Linked DNA regions of Homo sapiens: region 1 is linked to region 2. A link means that fine-mapping ties the variant in region 2 to the plasma level of a protein whose gene starts in the linked region. Region 2 holds a variant in brackets. A gene starts in the other region. All regions are shown on their forward strands.

What was found. PIP is the chance, under the fine-mapping model, that this variant and not a neighbour inherited with it causes the effect. Protein levels are from antibody-based Olink assays in UK Biobank. Linkage for the fine-mapping came from a reference panel and not from the study's own genotypes, which makes the PIPs less certain.
Region 1: GFRA3 starts here. The variant in region 2 is fine-mapped to the plasma level of the GFRA3 protein (UK Biobank, PIP above 0.99).

Annotation. Positions count from the first base shown.
Region 1 is chr5:138,270,029-138,280,089 of GRCh38, forward strand. GFRA3 (GDNF family receptor alpha 3) reads right to left here and starts at 4,593. Exons shown (of 8, transcript NM_001496.4): 1 at 4,306-4,593. The coding sequence starts at 4,396. RefSeq lists silencers at 4,316-4,505, 4,596-4,685.
Region 2 is chr12:67,440,482-67,450,734 of GRCh38, forward strand. It overlaps LINC02420 (long intergenic non-protein coding RNA 2420), which reads right to left and starts at 2,078. Exons shown (of 2, transcript NR_146500.1): 1 at 1,813-2,078; 2 at 517-991. All of the region lies in intron 3 of LOC105369812 (a long non-coding RNA gene), which reads left to right. RefSeq lists a silencer at 7,895-8,079. The variant C/A (reference allele first, on the strand shown) is at 6,206.

The sequences.
Region 1 (10,061 bases), not on the chromosome of region 2:
CAGAAATTGTGATAGAATAGAATACTACTCAGCCATAAAAAGGAATGAATTGGCCAGGCATGGTGGCTCACGCCGGTAATCCCAGCACTTTGAGAGGCTGAGACAGTCGGATCACAAGGTCAGGAGATCAAGACCATCCTGGCTAAAACAGTGAAACCCCGTCTCCACTAAAAATACAAAAAAAAAAAAAAAAAAAAAGTTAGCCAGGTGTGCTGGCAGGCACCTGTACAGCTACTCGGAGGCTGAGGCAGGAGAATGGCGCGAACCCGGGAGGCGGAGCTTGCAGTGAGCCGAGATCACGCCACTGCACTCCAGCCCGGGCGACAGAGCCAGACTCCGTCTCAAAAAAAAAAAAAAAAGGAATGAATTAACAGCATTTGCAGCAACCTAGATGAGATTGGAGACTATTATTCTAAGTGAAGTAACTCAGGAATGGAAAACCAAACATCGTATATTCTCACTGATATGTGGGAGCTAAGCTATGAGGATACAAAGGCATAAGAATGATACAATGGACTTGGGGACTTGGGGGGAAGCGTGGGGGAGGGGAAGGGATAAAAGACTACAAATAGGGTGCAGTATATACTTCTTGGGTGATGGGTACACCAAAATCTCATAAATCAGCACTAAAGAACTTACTTATGTAACCAAACACCACCTGTATGTACCCCAATAACCTATGGAAAAGAAAAAGTATATCAGAATTTCTCTAGGAAATATGTATTTCCAAAAAGCATATTTGATAATTTTACATGTACAAGATGAAAAAAAAAGCTTTTGAGATTTCAAAAAGTATTTAAGGAAGGTATGAGATTTTATATATTTACCAAAAGGGGAACATGGATTTAAAAAGATTGAGGAATTTCTACAAGTTTACGATGTTACTTCCGGTAGGTACTGAATAAGTGGTAAGTACACAAAGAAAAGTGGCAGATTCAAGTTCTATTGTTGTAACTGGACTAAAAATAATTTTTTTTTTTTGAGGTGGAGTTTTGCTCTTGTTACCCAGGCTGGAGTGCAGTGGCGCGATCTCGGCTCACTGCAACCTCTGCCTCCCGGGTTCAAGCGATTCTCCTGCCTCAGCCTCCCAACTAGCTGGGATTACAGGTATGCCCCACCATGCCTGGCTAATTTTGTATTTTTAGTAGAGATGCGATTTCTCGATGTTGGTCAGGCTGATCTTGAACTCCCGACCTCAGGTGATCTGCCCGCCTCGGCCTCAACAAAGTGCTGGGATTACAGGCATGAGCCACTGTGCCCGGCCATAAATATTTAACTGTACTAACTATTGAGTTGTAAACATTTTCAAAAGAAAACAATTTCTTAGTTGACACTTTACCAAGTTTGAGCAGTGATGGATTTAGGGGCATTCATCTCAACAAAGAACTTGGGGGCCACGTTAAATTTCATCTCAACAAGGTGGAACCTGTGTTTCCTGGATTGTGAAACACAGGACTTGATCCAGGGCAAAGGTCATAATTTGATCCAGTGTGCAAATGTGTCTTTTTTAGTCAGCATAGTTCCGTTCCTTTCTTTTTCTTTCTCCTTTCTCCTTTTCTTTTCTTTCTTTTAATCTCTGTCACCCAGACTGGAGTGCAGTGGTACAATCGCCACTCACTGCAGCCTACAGTCTCGACCTCCCAGGCTCAGGTGAATTCTCCCACCTCAGCCTCCCAAGTAGCTGGGACTGCATGCATGCACTACCACGCCCAGCTAATTTTGTATTTTTTGTAGAGATGGGTTTTCACCATGTTGCCCGGGCTGGTCTCGAACTCTTGAGCTCAAGCAATCCACCCACCTTGGCCTCCCAAAATGCTGGGATTATAGGCGTGAGCCACCATTCCCGGCAGTATTTTCTTTTCTGTTTTTTTTTTTTTTTTTTTTTTGTGTGTGTGTGTGTGTGTGTGTGTGTGTGTGGTTTGGTTGTTTTATTTGTTTGTTTGGTTGGTTTTTTTTGCACGTTCACAGTATTTTCTTTTTCTTTTTTTTTTTTTTGAGACGGAGTCTCGCTCTGTCACCCAGGCTGGAGTGCAGTGGCGCGATCTCAGCTCACTGCAAGCTCCACCTCCCAGGTTCACGCCATTCTCCTGCCTCAGCCTCCCGGGTAGTTGGGACTACAGGCGCCCACCAGCATGCCTGGCTAATTTTTTCTATTTTTTAGTAGCGACGGGGATTCACTGTGTTAGCCAGGATGGTCTCAATCTCCTGACCTCGTGATCTACCCGTCTCAGCCTCCCAAAGTGCTGGGATTACAGGTGTGAGCCACTGCACCCAGCCAGTATTTTCTTAAAGTTGTAATTAGTGGCCAACATTTAAAAATCAGATTTTAGGCCGGGTGCGGTGGCGCACACCTTTAATTGCAGCACTTTGGGAGGCCAAGGTGGGCAGACTGTTTGAGCCCAGGATTCAAGATCAGCCTGGGCATCCGAGATGGCAAAAACCCGTCTCTACAAAAAATACAAAAATTAACCAGGTGTGGTGGCACACTACTACAGTCCCAGCTACTGGGGAGGCTGAGGCAGAAGGATTACTTGAGTATGGGAGGTTGAGGCTGCAGTGAACTGGAATCACACCACTGAACTCCAGCCTGGGTGACAGATTGATACCCTGTCTCAAAAAAAAAATCAGATTTCAAATAAAACTATTAATTTCCAATTTGTCTTGAAAAATGGAAACACTCGGGCCCACATGTAACGGGTGGAGTAATGACTGCCCCCTTTTGACAAGTCATGCCTTTTCCAGCTTGTTATAGTCCATACCACTTTCTATTACTTGCCCCACCTCCTCATTTATACAGCCACTGCCACGTCTATTTCATATTGATTTGTTAGCAACCTGGTTTTGTAACTTTGTTTTCTGCTTCTTGGCTCATCAGAGAATGAGTAGCTACAGAATGGGTCAGATCAGGCTATGCCTCAGGGCACAAGATCCTCATTTGTTTCTCATCAGTGAGGCCCACAACCCAGGTATCCATTTTATAGTTGGATGAACAAAGAAAAGTAATGTGCACCAGGGGATGTAGCAAGTCAAGACCGAGTCAAGGCTAGAACCCAGGACTCCAGCCTCCTATCCACTTCAGAATGATTTTCAGTACATGACACCACTTCCCCATGAATCGGAGGTCTCCTATATGCTTGGCTTTAGCAGGCCCTGAGCAATGATATTTTCCACCCCCAAAGCCCTCTGTTGGTCTGTGCTCTTGAAGAGCACTTGGCTCTACATGGTACCTCCTAGATGACTGTTTTATGGATTTTCAATGAGGCTACTTAACCAGATGTCATTGCTGTCAAGTATTACTGTGGAAAATAGATCTGTCACCAACACTGCTTCATTAAACCATTTAATGAGAAAGGTGTTTAATGTTTTCCCCTGATCCTGACATGCAGCCATAACCTTTAGGATTAGTGAAATTTCCTGGGCAGTCAAATCAGACTGGTGATGTCTTGCTGCCCTGACTTACTGATGTTGGCAGGTGGACAGACCAGGGTTTTTCCTCCTTCCTTCCATATCTGTCTCAAGGCAGCATTTCTACAGCACTGCGTTGTGGACTGAGGTCTCAGGGCAGTGTGGTGGTCTCTCTGTCTCAGGAGTCCCTCCATTCAGTCTCTGGGCAGGAGCCGCATAATAAGATTCCACACACCCATACCACTCACGAAGGCCATGGGCCTTCCAGGGATCTCGGATCCCAGGCTGTTCTTCCTTGGGGGAGTGGCCTGGTTCTAAAACCAGGCCTTGAACTACATCTACAAAACATCTATTGTGGATTATTTATTATCCAAGGGGCAAGCCACTGTGCTAGACGGCTTGCAAGGCCTGCTATTGTAGAAGGTTATGAAACAAGTCAGTTTTAACGAACTTCTTTTTCTTCACCTGTACCTAGTTTCTTCCTCAGTCCTTAAAGCAGATGGAAGAGTTAAAGCCCACGTGGAGCAAATGACACTCTGTTTCTGATCTGATTCTCCCCGCCTCTTAGAGACGCTGTCTTGGTAGTGACCTGGCTGTGGGTTGTTCTGTGACTGTGTAGACCTACCTCAAAAGAGGGAAGAGGGGGGAAAAAGGGGCGAGGAGGAGATGCTTGGGTGGCCAGGCCATTGCTGGCACTCAGTCTATCTCAGTTCGTACACTGTGTTAGGTGTGACCCCAGCCCCTTGCAGGCACCCTGGGCTTCCTGCTCCAGTTCCCCTTGTTCGGCTCGGATGCACCGGGAGGCTGCTGCGCCCTCTCCGGACAGGTGCCCCGGGCCTCGCCTACACCTCACCTCCCCCTCCCACTGTACCCCCGGCCGGTGCGCGCTCTGACACTCACCGGCTGCGAGAGGCAGCGGCGACGGCGGCAGCAGCAGCAGCAACATCAGGACTACGGGCGGCAGCGGTCGCGGGTTCAGGGGGCGCACCATGGCGAGCTGTAGGCGCCGGGCTCCGCGCTCCCCTCGCTCCTCCCCTGGAGCTCTGAGAGCGGGGCTCCCTCGACCGGCACCTCCCGCCCCCGCCTCCCGCCCTCCAGCGCGACGCACACACTCTCCCACCAGGGTCCTGGGCGCCGCCCTCCAACTCCGAAGCGCGCGTCCACACCACGCGCCTCCAGCGCTGGTCCGAGGGACCGCGGGGGTGGGGGCGGGGGAGGGCCGGCGCCCCGGGAGCCGCCGGGCTTGGTGCGGAAGAGGTTGCTCTTTCCGAGGCGGCCCACCTGCTGTCTGACAAGTTCGACTAGCAAGACATTGTGGAAGCTGCCGCTGGAAACTCGCCATCTAGGAGAACCAAATATTTCTCCAAGAAAAGCACCCTTTCTCACTTTCTGGATCCCACTCACCCACACATCAAAGAACAGACACCACCACAAAAGAGATTTTGTAACAAAACTTGAACAAGCCAACACAAGGGCACTTGCATTTCTAGTATTTTTCTTAGAATTTGCACATCTATGATCTCGTTTTTTCCTCTCCTAAGTGTCTTCTAGGGTAAGATTGGGTGGTTATTAAGCTCAAGATGCTGCAAAGATGGGTCGCAGACAGGTGGAATGGCTTTGCTGGGGGAGCAGACCTGGGGCATTAGATTCCAAAATTCAGCCCCGATGGTGTCGTGAGGGAAGATGGAAGATTAAACTCTCCACTAAATAGCAGAGATTTCCTTGGACCAAAGCTCACTGAGGAAGGTGCCTGGAGAGACCATTTAGGAGCCCATCCTTTTCACATGATGAGACTTTCGGAGAGCAAGCTACTCTATCAGGATTAAACAACTAGGTAGAAACACATCTGTGCCCAGAACACAGGACGTCTACCCATAAGGATAAGGGTATTTATTGGGCCTGGGCCTGATTCCCACAAGATCCCAGGATAAAGCCAGAAGCAGAATGGCTTGGAAGAATGAGAACTAAGCAGCGCATAGAAAGAGAGAAGGAGAAGAGGGTGATGAAAGGAAGTGGAGGGTTTCATCCCCTAACCCTCTAACTTGACCCCCTCCTTACTTCCACAGCCAGCCTGGCAGAGGGCCAGCAGGGAGTACTGAGAATCGCAATATAAACCTCTGAGATTTATTGGCTGCTGCTTCTGAATATGGCCATCCTGCTGTGGCCTCTGGGGGGCATTTGCCGATGTAATCAGCCCAGAAAGAGAGTCATTCCAGCTGGGGGTGTAAATCACCCTTGGCAAAGCTAGGAGAGAGACATGTGGCCCTAGATAAGGAAGGAGACTGATGTGGCCTCTGTGCCCTTCCCTCCCTTCTCCTGCCCAGGGGGTGCTGGTTCCTGAGCTGTAATGCACTTTAAATGGAGTTTGTCCTTCGTTTTAATCTATATCTGCCCTGCCAGTTTTACAGAAGAGCTGTAAAAGTGAACATCTGGCTACTCAGCTTTTGTACAAGGCCTGTTTTCCCCCAGCTCCACCCTATCTCCATGTGCCTTTCCCAAGCCCTCCTCTCCAGAAAGGTGAGGGAACATGAAGCTGGGGGGCTACCATTAAAGGCCCCATGATGTCAGGCCCTCTACCCCATTGCCAGAGAGAAATATGCTCCAGGCACCTCATTTTCTCTCACACCTGCTATTACAGGCAGACAATCGTTTTTTGGGTTTTTTTTTTTGAAACTGACAATACTTAAGAAAGGAATTTATAAAGCAAAATGTAACAATTTCAGGCTCTTTGGGATGATAGGAAAGGGCTGAGACCCATGAACCAACAAAGATGTGAGGTGGTCAAGGGGTGTCTCCTCTGCCCTCCCCCTCCTCCAGCCCAAGCCAAATCATGTTATGGGCAGGAAGAGGGTTTGGGAAAGGAAGTTTGCTCAGGGTGCCTACTCTGATAGATACTCAGTGTCTATTCCAGGGCTGTCCCCACAGAATAGACCAAGAATGCAGTATCAAGCTGACGGGCTGGGAGCAATGACCAATCCCACCTGTAACAGGCCAGCCTTTTCATGAGAGAAAATAAAGTGTCTGGTGCATATTTCTGTCTGGGTACAGGGGTGGAGAGCCTCATATCATTGGGCCTTTAATGAGGATTGGAGAAGCTCTGCAAATAAATATGACTCCAAGACTAATATTGACAGCCCTCCAGCACACCCTCTCCACCAACCATGTCCTCTGTGACTGCCAACACCTGCTAGATAAGCAGCATTGCCCCTTGTGGACAATGACAAATGAGCCAGTCCTTTCTACAGAGATGATGTTACTCATCCATCATTCAATTCAATAATGTGTTTTGAGAATGATTATGAGCCCAGCTTTATGCTAGGTGCAAAATGATTAAGACACAAATCCTGCTCGGGGAGGGTGTTACAATCCACTGATTGCAACTCAAATGCCCAAAGACCCTGTATCTTATTCCACTTTCACTTGTAATCTCAATTTTCTCCTCTTATGGTCAGATTACATGGATTCTACCTTCTCTCAAGTCCTCTCTCTCTCCATTGAGCTTTAATTCCTGCTGCTATCCTAATCCAGGATGTTAGCAGTATAATAAATAGTTAAGACCACAAGCTTTACAGACTGCCTAGATTCAAATGCCGACACTAGCTGGATGACCTTGGGCAAGTCACTTAATTTTTCTGTGCTTCCATTTCTTCACCTGTAAAATTAAGGATAATAGTATCTATTTCACATTGTGAGGATTAAATGAGTATAGTATTTAAATGAAGGTGTAGGCTGGGCGCGGTGGCTCACGCCTGTAATCCCAGCACTTTGGGAGGCCAAGGTGGGCGGATCACGAGGTCAGGAGTTCAAGACCAGCCTGGCCAATATGATGAAACCCCATCTCTACTAAAATTACAAAGATTAGCCGGGCATGGTGGCACATGCCTGTATTCCCAGCTACTCGGGAGGCTCAGTGGGGCAGAAGAATTGCTTGAACCCAGGAGGCGGAGGTTGCAGTGAGCCAAGATCATGCTATTGCACTCCAGCCTGGGCAGTAGAGCGAGACTCCGACTCAAAAAAAAAAAAAGAAAAGAAAAAAAAAGGTGTAGCATTATACCTGGCATATAGCAAGCATCGAATAAATATCATCCCAGGTAGCATGCAGGAGTTAATTATTCTGTGTGTGAACTTGGCCAGACCCCACCACCCGACCTGCTGATTTGGAGCTGGAAGTGGCACTTTTTGCTCCTTTTGCTGAATATACTACTAGACCAGAGTGCTTGTAGGGATGGAAACAAAAAGAGCCATTTTTTATTTTTCTACCTTGTCAATTTCTTGAGGGCAGGGACTGTGTCATATTTTAACAACTGTGATACTCAGAATTGGCAACTCCAGATGCATATGTTTAAAGGAATTGGTGTTTCCTTAACCTATGCCTGAACAGAACAGGGAGAGAATCCCCCATGCCTCCTACTTTATACTCCTGATAAAGAAAGGGAAATATTCCTCCTTAATATAGTTTGGATATTTGTCCCCACCCAAATCTCATGATGAAATGTAATCCCTAATGTTGGAGGTGGGGCCTGGTGGAGGTGTCTGGATCATGGGGGTGGATCCTTCATGAATGGCTTGGGCCATTCTCTTGGGGATAAGTGAGCTGTCACTGAGTTCACAAGAGATCCAGTCATTTAAAAGTGTGTGGCACCTCCTCCCATAACTCCCTCCCTCTCTTGCTCCTGCTCTGGATATGTGACATGTCTGCTTCTCCTTCACCTTCTGACATGATTGTAAGCTTCCAGAGGCCTACCCAGGAGCTGAGCAGATGCCAACACCATGCTTCCCATAAAGCCTGCAGAACCATGAGCTAATTAAGCTTCTTTTCCTTATAAATTGTTCAGTCTCCCAGGCAAGCATGGTGGTCAGCCAGGCATGGTGGTGTCGGCCTGTAGTCCCAGCTACTTGGGAGGCTAAGGCAGAGGTTGCAGTGAGCCAAGATCATGCCACCACACTATAGCCTGGGTGACACAGTGAGACCCTGTCTCCAAAAAAAAAAAAAAGCCGGGCGCGGTGGCTCACGCCTGTAATCCCAGCACTTTGGGAGGCCGAGATGGGCGGATCATGAGGTCAGGAGATTGAGACCATCCTGGCTAACACGGTGAAACCCCATCTCTACTAAAAATGAAAAAAAAAAATTAGCCTGACGTGGTGGCGGGCACCTGTAGTCCCAGCTACTCGGGAGGCTGAGGCAGGAGAATGGCATGAACCCAGGAGGCAGAGCTTGCAGTGAGCTGAGATCATGCCACTGCACTCCAGCAGGGGTGACAGAGCAAGACTCTGTCTCAAAAAAAAAAAAAATTACCCAGTCTCAGGTATTTTTTTTCTTTTTCTTTCTTCCTTTTTTTTTTTTTTTTTTTGAGACAGGGTCTCACTCTACTGCCCAGGCTGGAGCACAGTGGTGCAATCATGGCTCACCACAGCCTCAACTTCACATGCTCTAGTGATCCTCCCACTTCAGCCTCTCAAGTAGGTGGGACTACAGGTGCACACCACCACACCTGGCTAATTTTTAAAAATTATTCGTAGAAGGCCAGACGCAGTGGCTCATGCCTGTAATCCCAGCACTTTGAGAAGCCAAGGCAGGTGGATCACCTGAGGTCAGGAGTTTGGGACTAGCTTGACCAACATGGTGAAACCCTGTCTCTATTAAAAATACAAAAAAATTAGCCAGGCATGGTGGCAGGCGCCTGTAATCCCAGCTACTTGGGAGGCTGAGACAGGAGAATCACTTGAACCCGGGAGGCGGAGGTTGCAGTAAGCCAAGATTGTGCCATTGCACTCCAGCCTGGGCAACAAGAGCAAAACTCCATTTTTTTTTTTTGAGACGGAGTTTCGCTCTTGTTGCCCAGGCTGGAGTGCAACGGCGCGATCTCGGCTCACTGCAACCTCCGCCTCCCAGCTCTCAGGTTCAAGTGATTCTCCTGTCTCAGCCTCCCAGGTAGCTGGGATTACAGGCACATGCCACCATGCCCGGCTAATTTTTGTATTTTTAGTAGAGATGGGGTTTCATCATATTGGTCAGGCTGGTCTCGAACTCCTGACCTCAGGTGAGCCGCCCGCCTTGGCCTCCCAAAGTGCTGGGATTACAGGCGTGAGCCACCGCACCCAGCGAAACTCCATCTTAAAAAAAAAAAATTCTTCGTAAAGACAGGGTTTCACCATGTTGCCCAGATGGTCTCAAACTCCTAGGCTCAAGTGATCCTCCAGCCTCAGTTTCCCAGTGTTAGGATTACAGGGTATTTCTTTATAGCAAAGGAAGAATGGCTTAATACATTCCCTTCTCTATGGCAGAGGTCACCCAGGTCCTGGGCTGAGATTGACAAGAAGCAATTGCAAAAAAAAAATTTATGTATATTTTTTGAGACAGAGTCTCCCTCTGTCACTTAGGTTGGAGTGCAGTGGTGCAATCTCAGCTCACTGCAACCTCCACCTCCCGGGTTCAAGCAATCCTCCCACCTCAGCCTCCTGAGTAGCTGGGACTACAGACATGCACCACTGCACCTGGCTAATTCTTAAATTTTCTGTAGAGACAGAGGTCTGACTATATTGCCCAGGCTGGTCTCAAACTCCTGGATTCAAGCAATCCTCCCACCTCAGCCTCCCAAAGTACTGGGATTATAGGCTTAAGCCACCGCACCTAGCCCAAGAAGCAGGTTTTTGTT
Region 2 (10,253 bases):
GGATGAGGTGAAAGTTTCAAGATGAATAGTATTTATTTCTGTACAACAACCACAGCTCTTCTCTTATTCTTTGTGACTCTTATTCAGCTCACATCACAGCAAATGAAGTAACAAGATCACACATTTGTTGTATTCTATGGACCCTCTCTTTCACAGAACCATTACATTACCAGGTTACCCACTGGCTACCCACTGGCTTGAGACTGACAATTCATTAGGTTTTTTTTGTTTGTTTGTTTTTGAGAGGGAGTCTTGCTCTGTTGCCCAGGCCGGAGTGCAGTGGAATGATCTCAGCTCACTGCAACCTCCACCTCTTGGGCTCAAGTGATTCTCCTGCCTCAGCCTCTTGAGTAGCTGGTACTACAGGTATGCACCACCATGCCCAGCTAATTTTTGTATTTTTAATAGAGACAAGGTTTCACCATGTTGGCCATGCTGGTCTTGAACTCCTGACCTCAGGTGATCCACCCGCCTTGGCCTCCCAAAGTGCTGGGATTACAGACATGAGCCACTATGCCCAACTGAACTGATATTTTTATTATCTTTTTTTTTTTCCAGTCGAGAAGCCTGAGCCTCAGAGGGGTAAGTGACTCCTCTCATTTATGCTGCTGGCGTCTGGTGAGGCTTAGTCTCGGCATTCAGGTGTGCAGATGGTTATGTGTGTGGTGGGGAGTAGAAGTCTCTTCTTAATGTTCTGCTGACTGCTCAGTATTTTATGATGAGCCCAAGTCATTTGTCTTGCATCAGTTTTTCCTCCCTTGCTCTAATGCTTCTCTTTAGATAGAGCAAATGTATTCTTTTGTTCACCAGCTGGTCCTTTTACCTTTGAGGAGGTAAAAGAAGTAGGTTTCCAGCAGGGGAAGAGGGAGTATGAATGAAGGTCATGGGAGCATAGAGCAGGAAGAAATGGTCCCAGAGGAGTTGCCTAGTGGCCACCTAGGATGAGAGGCAGATTCGTTGAATCTGTCTTCGATGTAAGGTGATGCTGTGCCTACGGGGATGAAAGAAATGGCAGTGAGGGTGAGCAGCTTCCCAGAATACACCTGGGCCCCGTGCTCATGGTCACTTGTTGGTTGGAGCCACATCTGGGTCTGAGATTCAGGCTGGACACAAGATTGCTGTGATGGATGTACTTTCATTTCATCACATCCTATTTGTATCACAGCAATATCAAGAAAATGAACACACAAAGCTAGATCACCATGGAGAGAAGGCAGTTTAGATGTATTTGTTTTTTCCCCCTGTATTTTTAATGTTTTGCTTGATTTCTCATCATTTGAAGTTGCTCCTCTGATGTTACAGAGATAACATTTGCCTGATGATCTCAGCTAGAAAGTGGTCACAGGAGTAGCATTCCACAGGACACTGAGCATTCGCTCTTGGGAGCACATCGTTTGTATAAGGGCAAAGGAAAAGAAAGGGCAGCCAAGGCTGGGGCGGAAACGCAGCGCCCTCACCTTCGAGAAGGAAGCATGGGGAAGGCGCCCTCTTGTGGAACTCGGCTCACTGTCTAATCTGCCTGGTAACAGGCGCTCTTTATACCAACGGATATATTTTTCCCCATGGATTTGTGTTTGAAGGTATTCTTAGAAAATTTTGAGTACAACTCTCGGCTGCTTTTCATATCCACCAAGAACTGACAATCTGAAGTCAATGTGAAATTCAAAAGGTGGCATTTTTTTAAGAGAGCCAGATTAACTGTGAATTATCTCCCAAATTGGCATGTTGGGTAATTATTTTCATATTTTGGTGCAGAGCCTTTCAAAATATGGGTTTTGCAATTACGTTAAAAAAAAAACCTACTTCTCTCACCTGTGTAGGATTTAAGCAAAGCCCAGGCAGTTTGAGGTTATTTTTAGTCCTGATTAATTATTCAGCCAAGATAATTCCAAGTTCAGCAGCTTATTTGGAAGAGACATGACAGCTGGGCTCTCAAGTCAGCCTCAGGTCAAAGCCGACATCTTCATAGCAAAACCGTGCTCTCCCCACATTTTGGGGAGAGGGCAGCGGGTTGCATTTTCTGTGGCACTGGTGTCAGCTTTGCCAGCCTGGAGCCGGTGAGTGGAGGGAGAAACTGCTGATTCGGGGGCCTTCAGACATGGCCGATTTCACAGCAGCGAAAATAGGTCACTAATGACACGTGGCAATGAGCCAATAAACTGTGGCCAGGAGCTCCGAACGGTCTGCTGGTGGCAAGATACATTTCACTAGAACTCCAGGAAGAAAGCAATCTGCTTTCATTTGTTTAAAACAACCATAGGGTTGCAGAACTCAGAGGCCAAGATTGTTATCTCTCTCCCCCTTACCTTTATATTCCTAAACGTTCAAGTTTATTGTTTCAGTTTATCCCTTTTCCCATGCACTGAAATAACTGTGGCGCTCTTGCTTCTTTTTTGAATAGTCAAGCTGATATGATTCTTTTTTCCCCTCAAGTGCCAGGGGGGAGAATGAAGATGATATGGTTTGGCTTTGTGTCCCCACCTGAATCTCATCTTGAATTGTAATCCCCACGTGTGGAGGGAGGGTCCTGATGGGAGGTGATTGGGGGCTATTGGGAGGATCATGAGGACGGTTTCCCCCATGCTGTTCTCGTGATAGTGAGGGAGGGCTCGCGAGATCTGATGGTTTACAAGCGGCAGTTTCCCCTGCGGCTCTTTTTCCTGCTGCCATGCAAGAGGTACCTTGCTTCTCCTTTGCATTCTGCCACAATTGTAAGTTTCCAGAGGCCTCCCAGCCATGTGGAACTGTGGGTCAATTAAACCTTTTTTCTTCATAAGTTACTCAGTCCCGGGTGTGTCTTCATAGCAATGTGAGAACAGACTAATACAGGAGACAATGATGATATTATCCTTTCTGAATCCCTCTGTGTTGATGCTGATGTGGCTCTAGTCGGTTTAGTCCATACCATACTGATCTTCATAAAACCGTCTCTGTGATTTGGGAGCAGTGTCATGTGTTGCTATTATGTGAGAAAATAGTATTTTTACTTCATTTTGGGTAGTCACTCTGGATTGATGTTTCATGTTAATCTCCTAAAAGAAGAAGGGGGGATTGTAGAGAAGAAGGCTGGGAATGGCTAATCACCTTCCATATAGGCCTGGTGTGATTCAGAACAGAGCTTAGACCAGAGATTCCCAAACCAAAGTGAGCCTCAGCATTCCTGGGAGGTCCTGTTAAAACCTAGGTGGCTGGGCCTCACTCTCTTATTCTGATTCAGTAGGTTTGTACGAAGAGCCCAAGAATGTGCATTTCTAACAAGTTTCCAGGTGATGCTTGTATTGCTGATTCAGGGACCTGCATAAACCTGAAGTGCTGGCTTAGGTAGGTCAGCAGTAGCCTCAGCACTGCCCCACATAAGCAATTTCCCCATCCTAGAACTTCCTCCACACTGCAGACAGTTTAAGAGTAGAGACCATTTCTCATTCATCTTTGAATTTCCAGACTCCAGCACAGTGCTTGACACAGATGTGTTAAATAGTTGTTGAATGAATTAATGACTGAACTCTATCAGCTGATCTTCTTAGAATTTCTTACTTGAAGTGGGTAATCAGAGATGTTTTACTGAAACTCTGGAATTACCTTAAATAGGATATTGGTTGCATTGAATGTAAATGACGAAATCACTGAAATTAATATTTTAAAAGACAATGGGCTGGGTGCGGTGGCTCACACCTGTGATCCCAGCACTTTGGGAGGTGGGGTGGGGTGGGGGTGGATCACGAGGTCAGGAGTTCGAGGCCAACCAATATGGTAAAACCCCATCTCTACTAAAAAATACAAAAATTAGCCAGGCATGGTGGCGCATGCCTATAGTCCCAGCTACTCAGGAGGCTGAGGCAGGAGGATCACTTGAACCCGGGAGGCAGAGGTTGCAGTGAGCTGAGATTGTGCCACTAAACTCCAGCCTGGGTGACAGAGCGAGACTCCATCTCAAAAAACAAGACAAAAAACAATGGAGTAAGGAGAAATAAGGCAACATGCTCTCCTAAGGGTTGCTCAGGTTGAACAAAAGGAGCTAGGTTTTAGGAAGAAGCTGGGCAGAGGAAAGGTGGGCCTACCAAAGCGAACAAGGTGTTTTACCACCATTTGTAATGAGAGACAGAAACCTTCTGCAAGGAGTGTATTAAGAAGATGACCTGGCACCTTTTCCCTGGAAGGTCCCATTCACTGAACCTCACAGGGCAGGGTAAGACATAGTTCTTGTATCAAGGAAGAGTTTTTGGCATGGTTTGTGACTTAGGGACTATGTAATATGTTGGTAACCAGTATGTAAACCCTGGAGATCAGCTCCTAGGACTCCTCTGATCTGTGTGTTCATTCTTTTATTTGGATGGGAACGAAGGGAAGAATGGAGTTTGAGTCTGGTTTGGTTGGAACCTTCCATCCCTCATGACCTTACGGCTGCCTTAGCGTGTGTCCTCTCCACGTGTTGCTGGGCATTTTCTGGCATGCCTCTTTTGTTTTTTGTGGCTTTCTTTTTCTCATGCTATCCTTCTGCTTGGAATGTCTCTCTCTACTGTCCAACCAGCCTAATCCTGGATAATTCAGACTTAACCATTTATAACTTCCCCTAGAAGCTACCTCTCCCAGGAAGTATCTTTAGGTGTCTCTTCTCTGTGTTCTTATAATACCCTATGAATACCTCAATCACTCATTCACTTATTCATTCAACAATTATCTATTGAGTTCCTAATAGGTGCTAGGCATAGTGCTAGTCATTGGGGATATAAAGATGGACATGACATAGCTCTTGTCCTTAAGTAGCTCATTGCCTAGTGAGAGGATATAAATAATTAAACAAGTAATTGCAATACGAAGTGCAAAGTCCTCAGATAGGAGTAAGCACTGTTGCTATGGAAATACCTAGAAAGGACGCCTAACTCTAACTTGAGGTGTCAAGGAGCATTTTCTAGATTAGCAATCCCCAACTTTTTTGGCACCAGGGGCCAGTTTTGTGGAAGACAATTTTTCCACTGATGGGCAAGGGGAGGGATGGTTTCAGGATGAAACTGTTTCACCTCAGATCATCAGGCATTAGATTCTCATAAGGAACGTGCAACCTAGACCCCTCGCATGCACAGTTCACAATAGGGTTCACATTCTTGTGAGAATCTAATGCCACTGCTAATCTGACAGGAGGCAGAGCTCAGGTGGTAATGCTCACTGGCCTGCTGCTCACCTGCTGTGCAGCCTGGTTTTTTTTCTTCTCTTGTTTTTTTTTTTTTTTTTTTTTTTGAGATGGAGTTTTGCTGTTGTCACCCAGGCTGGAGTGCAGTGGCACAATCTCTGCAACTGCTGCCTCCTGGGTTCAAGTGATTCTCCTGCCTCAGCCTCCCAGGTAGCTAGGATTACAGGTGCCTGCCATCACGCTCAGCTAATTTTTGTATTTTTAGTAGAGATGGGGTTTCACCATGTTTGCCAGGCTGGTCTCAAACTCCTGACCTCAGGTGATCCACCCATCTCAGCCTCCCAAAGTGCTGGGATTATAGGCGTGAGCCACTGCACCCAGCCATGCAGCCTGGTTTCTAATAGGACACAGACTGGTGCTGGTCCATGGCCTGGGGGTTGGGGACGCTTATTTTAGATAAAGAAACATCTTACTCAAGATCTAGCAGGTTGAATAGAATTTAGCCAGACAAAGAGATGGGAGAAGAGCATACCAATGAGAGGAGAAGCTTTTGCAAAGCTCATTATTTGTTTATATGATTAGCTGAAGACTGTAGACTCTGGGGGCTGAGACTGTGTTTTATTCCTTAGTCTAGTCCTAACTCATAGCATCGTACCTGGCATACAGTAGATGTCCAAGGAAAAATTTCTTGAATGTGTGAATGAATGAATTAGCCTCTGCTGCAATGGCTGTTGAGAGTACTAACCAGTAACCTCAGAAGGTGGTGATTCTTAGAAAGTGAACCTTTGTTGGCTCAATGGCTCTCTATTCTAATTCTTGTATGCCCTTCCTATGTGCTTATCAGTTGGTTAGCAGACATTAAAATTGTGTGGGTTCTATGTGCAGGTTCATTTCATGTTCTGAGTACGATTGCTGATATGATTTCCATGTAGCAGCAAACTGCTCCAACCCAATGCTTTGAAAACAAATGTGCAAATTCCGAAAAGAGGATTAATGCAAACAAGGTTAGAACCGACTGAGCATTTTAACACTGCATGAAATATAAACAAATCAAACTGTGTTTTCAGAAACAGACTT[C/A]TTTTTTTATGATTGGAAAAATACTGCTTTTGTTGTTGTTGTTGTTGCCTCCATTGTCAGTTGCCTCTCGAAGTGTGTTCTGCTGTTAATGGAACAGCGAGGCAGGTCTGCAGGCCCACGCGTCTACCCACTCATTGTCAGTGAGCACTGGCTTTCTGAATCACCTGGGAAAATGGGAAATGATTAACTCAAAGCAAAAAAGGTGACTTACATTTTCTGAATGAATGATAGTGATTGAAGTGCTAACTCCTAAGAGATTTGCAGAGGAGTTCATGCAAGGGGTAGAGAGCGTCCCTGTGTTCTTAGGAGTTGCTTTAATAAAAGGAGCCCTGGCTCAGAGTGGGGGAGGCAAAGCAGGCAAGAAGCAGTGAGTGGGAGAATTGAATAACTTGATTGGAGAATCCTTGTGCTACTCCTCTATGCCCTGATTGTGTGGGCTGACATCTGGCTGCAAATAGATGCTCAACAAAGGATCATGGCTAACCACAGCTCCTAACAGTGCTTTGAAACTGAGTGCACATTAGAATCACACTGCAGTTTTAAAAAATACCAACCCTAGGGCTTCATCCCAAGAGTTCCTGATTTAATTGGTGTGGGATAGGACCCAGGCATCCATATTTTTTTAAAAGCTCCCCAGGTGCTTCTATTTGAAAGCCAGGATTAAGACTAATTGTTTGTAGTGGTTTAGGAGAGCCTCTTGCCAGCCAAGGAGTGGCTCCTTCACTATGAGCTATCATCCCTTGTCATGATCTCTCTTCCAGGACAAGAGCAGAGAAGGGAGTACAAGAAAAGAGGAGTAATTAAGGGTTTAGTGTGATCCTTTTAAAACCCCAGTCCAGAGAGGCTTTAAGAAGCACAGGTTAGGTCCACACTGATTGATATTGTTATCCTTGAAATTGAAAAGAGAATATGGAGAATAATGAAGAGTTAGCAATAATGATGTGGCAATGGGTTATTGGCAAGGTACTTCCAGAAGGTCTTGAAATATGTTTGGCAAGAAACTCACTGATCAGATGAAGAGACCTGTAAAGTGAAATTTGAAGGGAAATAAAGATACTGAGGGAAGTGGGGAGAGGAACTGTGGAACTAGAGATCAAGGAATAAACTGCTATATGATTCATTTGAAAAACAAGGGAGGCCTCTCTGAGATCCCCAGGAGAGACAAGGAAAAGGCACAGGGATAATGCTCACAGGTATGGATGGTGACATATGTTTCATAATTTCAGTTTAGAGAAATTAATATAATTTTTTTCAATTTATTATTTAAAGTACCACCAACACTATTAGGGTGAGACTTACAAGTGGAACCCTCCACCAGAATTCTGCCCTCCAGTTACAGATTTCCAGAAGGTGGAAAGCATTGCAACATTCACATACTATGTTCCATCCCAAGCCTTATGAGGTCTTCAAAACCATACCACAGTATTCTTGGGGGAAAGTGTCTTCATAGAGAATATTTCAGCACTCATTTTAATAATACATCCTTAAGCTGTTCTAATTTGTGCCCATCTCAATGCCAAATTCAAATTTACTTGAAAAAAACAAAAACAAAAACCACTAGTCTAGTTCAACCTCAGAGGTCCTAGGTTTCTTTCCTTGACCACCTCCTATGCTGAGCTTCCATCTTGTCCCTCCTGGCTGGAGCAGTTAGGTTTACCGGAGCCACATAAGTGAGAGCTACCATTGGCCTTACCTTGGAAAGCCCAAGCTTTCTGGCATAAAGGAACTCAGATCCCTTAGGACCCTGGGAATCTCACATGCCTCTGACTCCTTCAAGAGGTGCAGCATCTGTATAACCGAAACGACCACCCTCTACTTCCCTGTCATGTCTTGCTTGGCTCTGGAGAGCACAGAGGGGAGGCTTCTGTGGATCACCCCTCCACCTTGTATACACACCTCCTAGAATTGGTGTCTCACTGCCTAATTATGTGCCAATGGCTCTGATCTGTAAACAGGATATTGATATTAGATCTCACATAGTTTAAGCTTCTGCCAGTAGAATTTAGCTACCTTCCCGATATCTTCCTGCTATGTCAGAAAGCACAGCTCCTAAGCCCTCAGTACGGTAGTCCATGGTTTAAACTGAGGGAAAGGACTTGATCAGCTGATACTAGTGCAAGAACCTGGCTGAAAGAGATCATGAAGGCCCTGAGCATCTGCTTACAGGCCTTCCCTTTTCAGTTTTCAAAATGTTCAAAAGGGTGGAGGGCCCTGGCTTCTCTCTTATCCATGGAATGCCTTTTCTGGTGCCTTTTCTTACTGTCTCTGGCCTGACATGCTTGGGTCAGGTCAGAGAAGGGCTTTGCCTTAATGGCATGTTTATCTTCAAATCTCTCTTAGTATCCACTAAGCCTATAGGTCTTTGATTCTCTAAGGTTCATGGGAAACAGCTAAGGAGTGCTAGGGAAGATCTACTCAGGATCTGCTCTTACCCCATTATGATGCTAGCCATCTAGCAGAACTTGCACAGTATTTAAAAATGAACAATGTCAACTCTGCTTCTTCCAGGCAGTTCTGAACTGGGGATGAACGTTCACATGCCTCAAAGGTCTTATATAATTTGGTTTCTAAAGAAATTAGCACTCCAGGTATTTGATATCATGATCATCCTTTTTACCAATTACTCGATAGTGTCTGGAGCCCCCAAGATCCCTTGTGACCTTTGTCTAAAACTGAGAAAACCCACTGAGTGAGCAGCAAAACTGTCTTCTCCTTTTACCTCTTAGCATCTGAATCTGATACTTATCACTCTTTAAAACCTAAACCAAAATCCATTGTCTCTGGTAAGCAGTGTTGGGCATTCTGAATCTAGAATTTGGGTTCGAGTTTCCTTTGGTGTCTATTTAAAAAAAACAATTGTTCATGCAAGTCTAAATGTTATCTGAATTTTTATTCTTCACAGTGCATGTGCTGTGGGGCTCAGAGATACTAAGTGTGATGTTTTAAACGGTTACTCTTAGAAAGAGTGACTCATCTCAACTTTCCCTAAGTGGTCATGTATTTTGCATATCTATTCTAGAATGCTCTAGGCCCATGGGCAATGCACATTGCACTCACAGAGGGCATACACTTGGCATCTGCCTTAGAATACTCTCCTTAGCCACATCTTTATCTGCTTGACTACAAAACTGAAACTTTCCGTGCTGTTGGGGATCTGTTTTAGACACTCTCGAGTTAAAATGAACGAGCCAGTGCTTGAATATTTCCTCTTCCTGTTTGTGTAGCCTTCTGCACATAGGTAGCGATGGTAACTGCCCAAGTGTGTTGCCATTACATCTGGACTTGCAGATGCAGAGCAGGCCCTATGGATCCAGCTCCCTCTCACAGATACCCTGGGTTTGATGTGCTCTTCTCTCATCGGACTCCCATACCCACCCCCAGTTTTTCCCTGACTCTCATTCACATCTGTAGGAGTGGGCGGGAGGCTTTAGCACTTAGGCCACAGAATCTGAAGCCAGGATGAGGGCACAGGTGCTGGCTCTCAAGTGTCCTTAAAGACTCCCTAACCAGCACCACTGAGCTCTAAGTATCTCCTTTCCTTGTGGCTTCTTCCATCCTGGCCTTTCTAGATCCTGTGGGTTGAGGTCTGAAGTTTTTGTCCAGCATGATCTACTTCCTGGAAGGCTGAAGACCACACAGATCCTGGGCTGATTCAGCTTCCCAACCTTCTCCAAGTGGCTTCTACCACTGGGATACCAAAAAGGGGTTGTCCACTGAGTTTTGGTTGTCAACCAAATTCAACCACCAATTTTGCCTATTCCCTTCCCTTCCATAGCCATAGGATGTTACCAGATGGTGATATAGTTTGCATGCTTGTCCCTGCCAAAATCTCATGTTGAATTGTATCCCCAGTGCTGGAGGTGGGGCCTGGCGGGGGGTGTTTGGGTCATGGGGGTGGATCCTTCATGGCATGGTGCTATCTTTACCATAGTGAGTGAGTTCTCACGAGATCTGATTGTTTAGAAATATGTGGTACTTCCCCTCCCCGCACCCTCTCTCTCTCTTGCTCTTGCTTTTGCCACATGATGTGCCTGGTCCCCCTTCACCA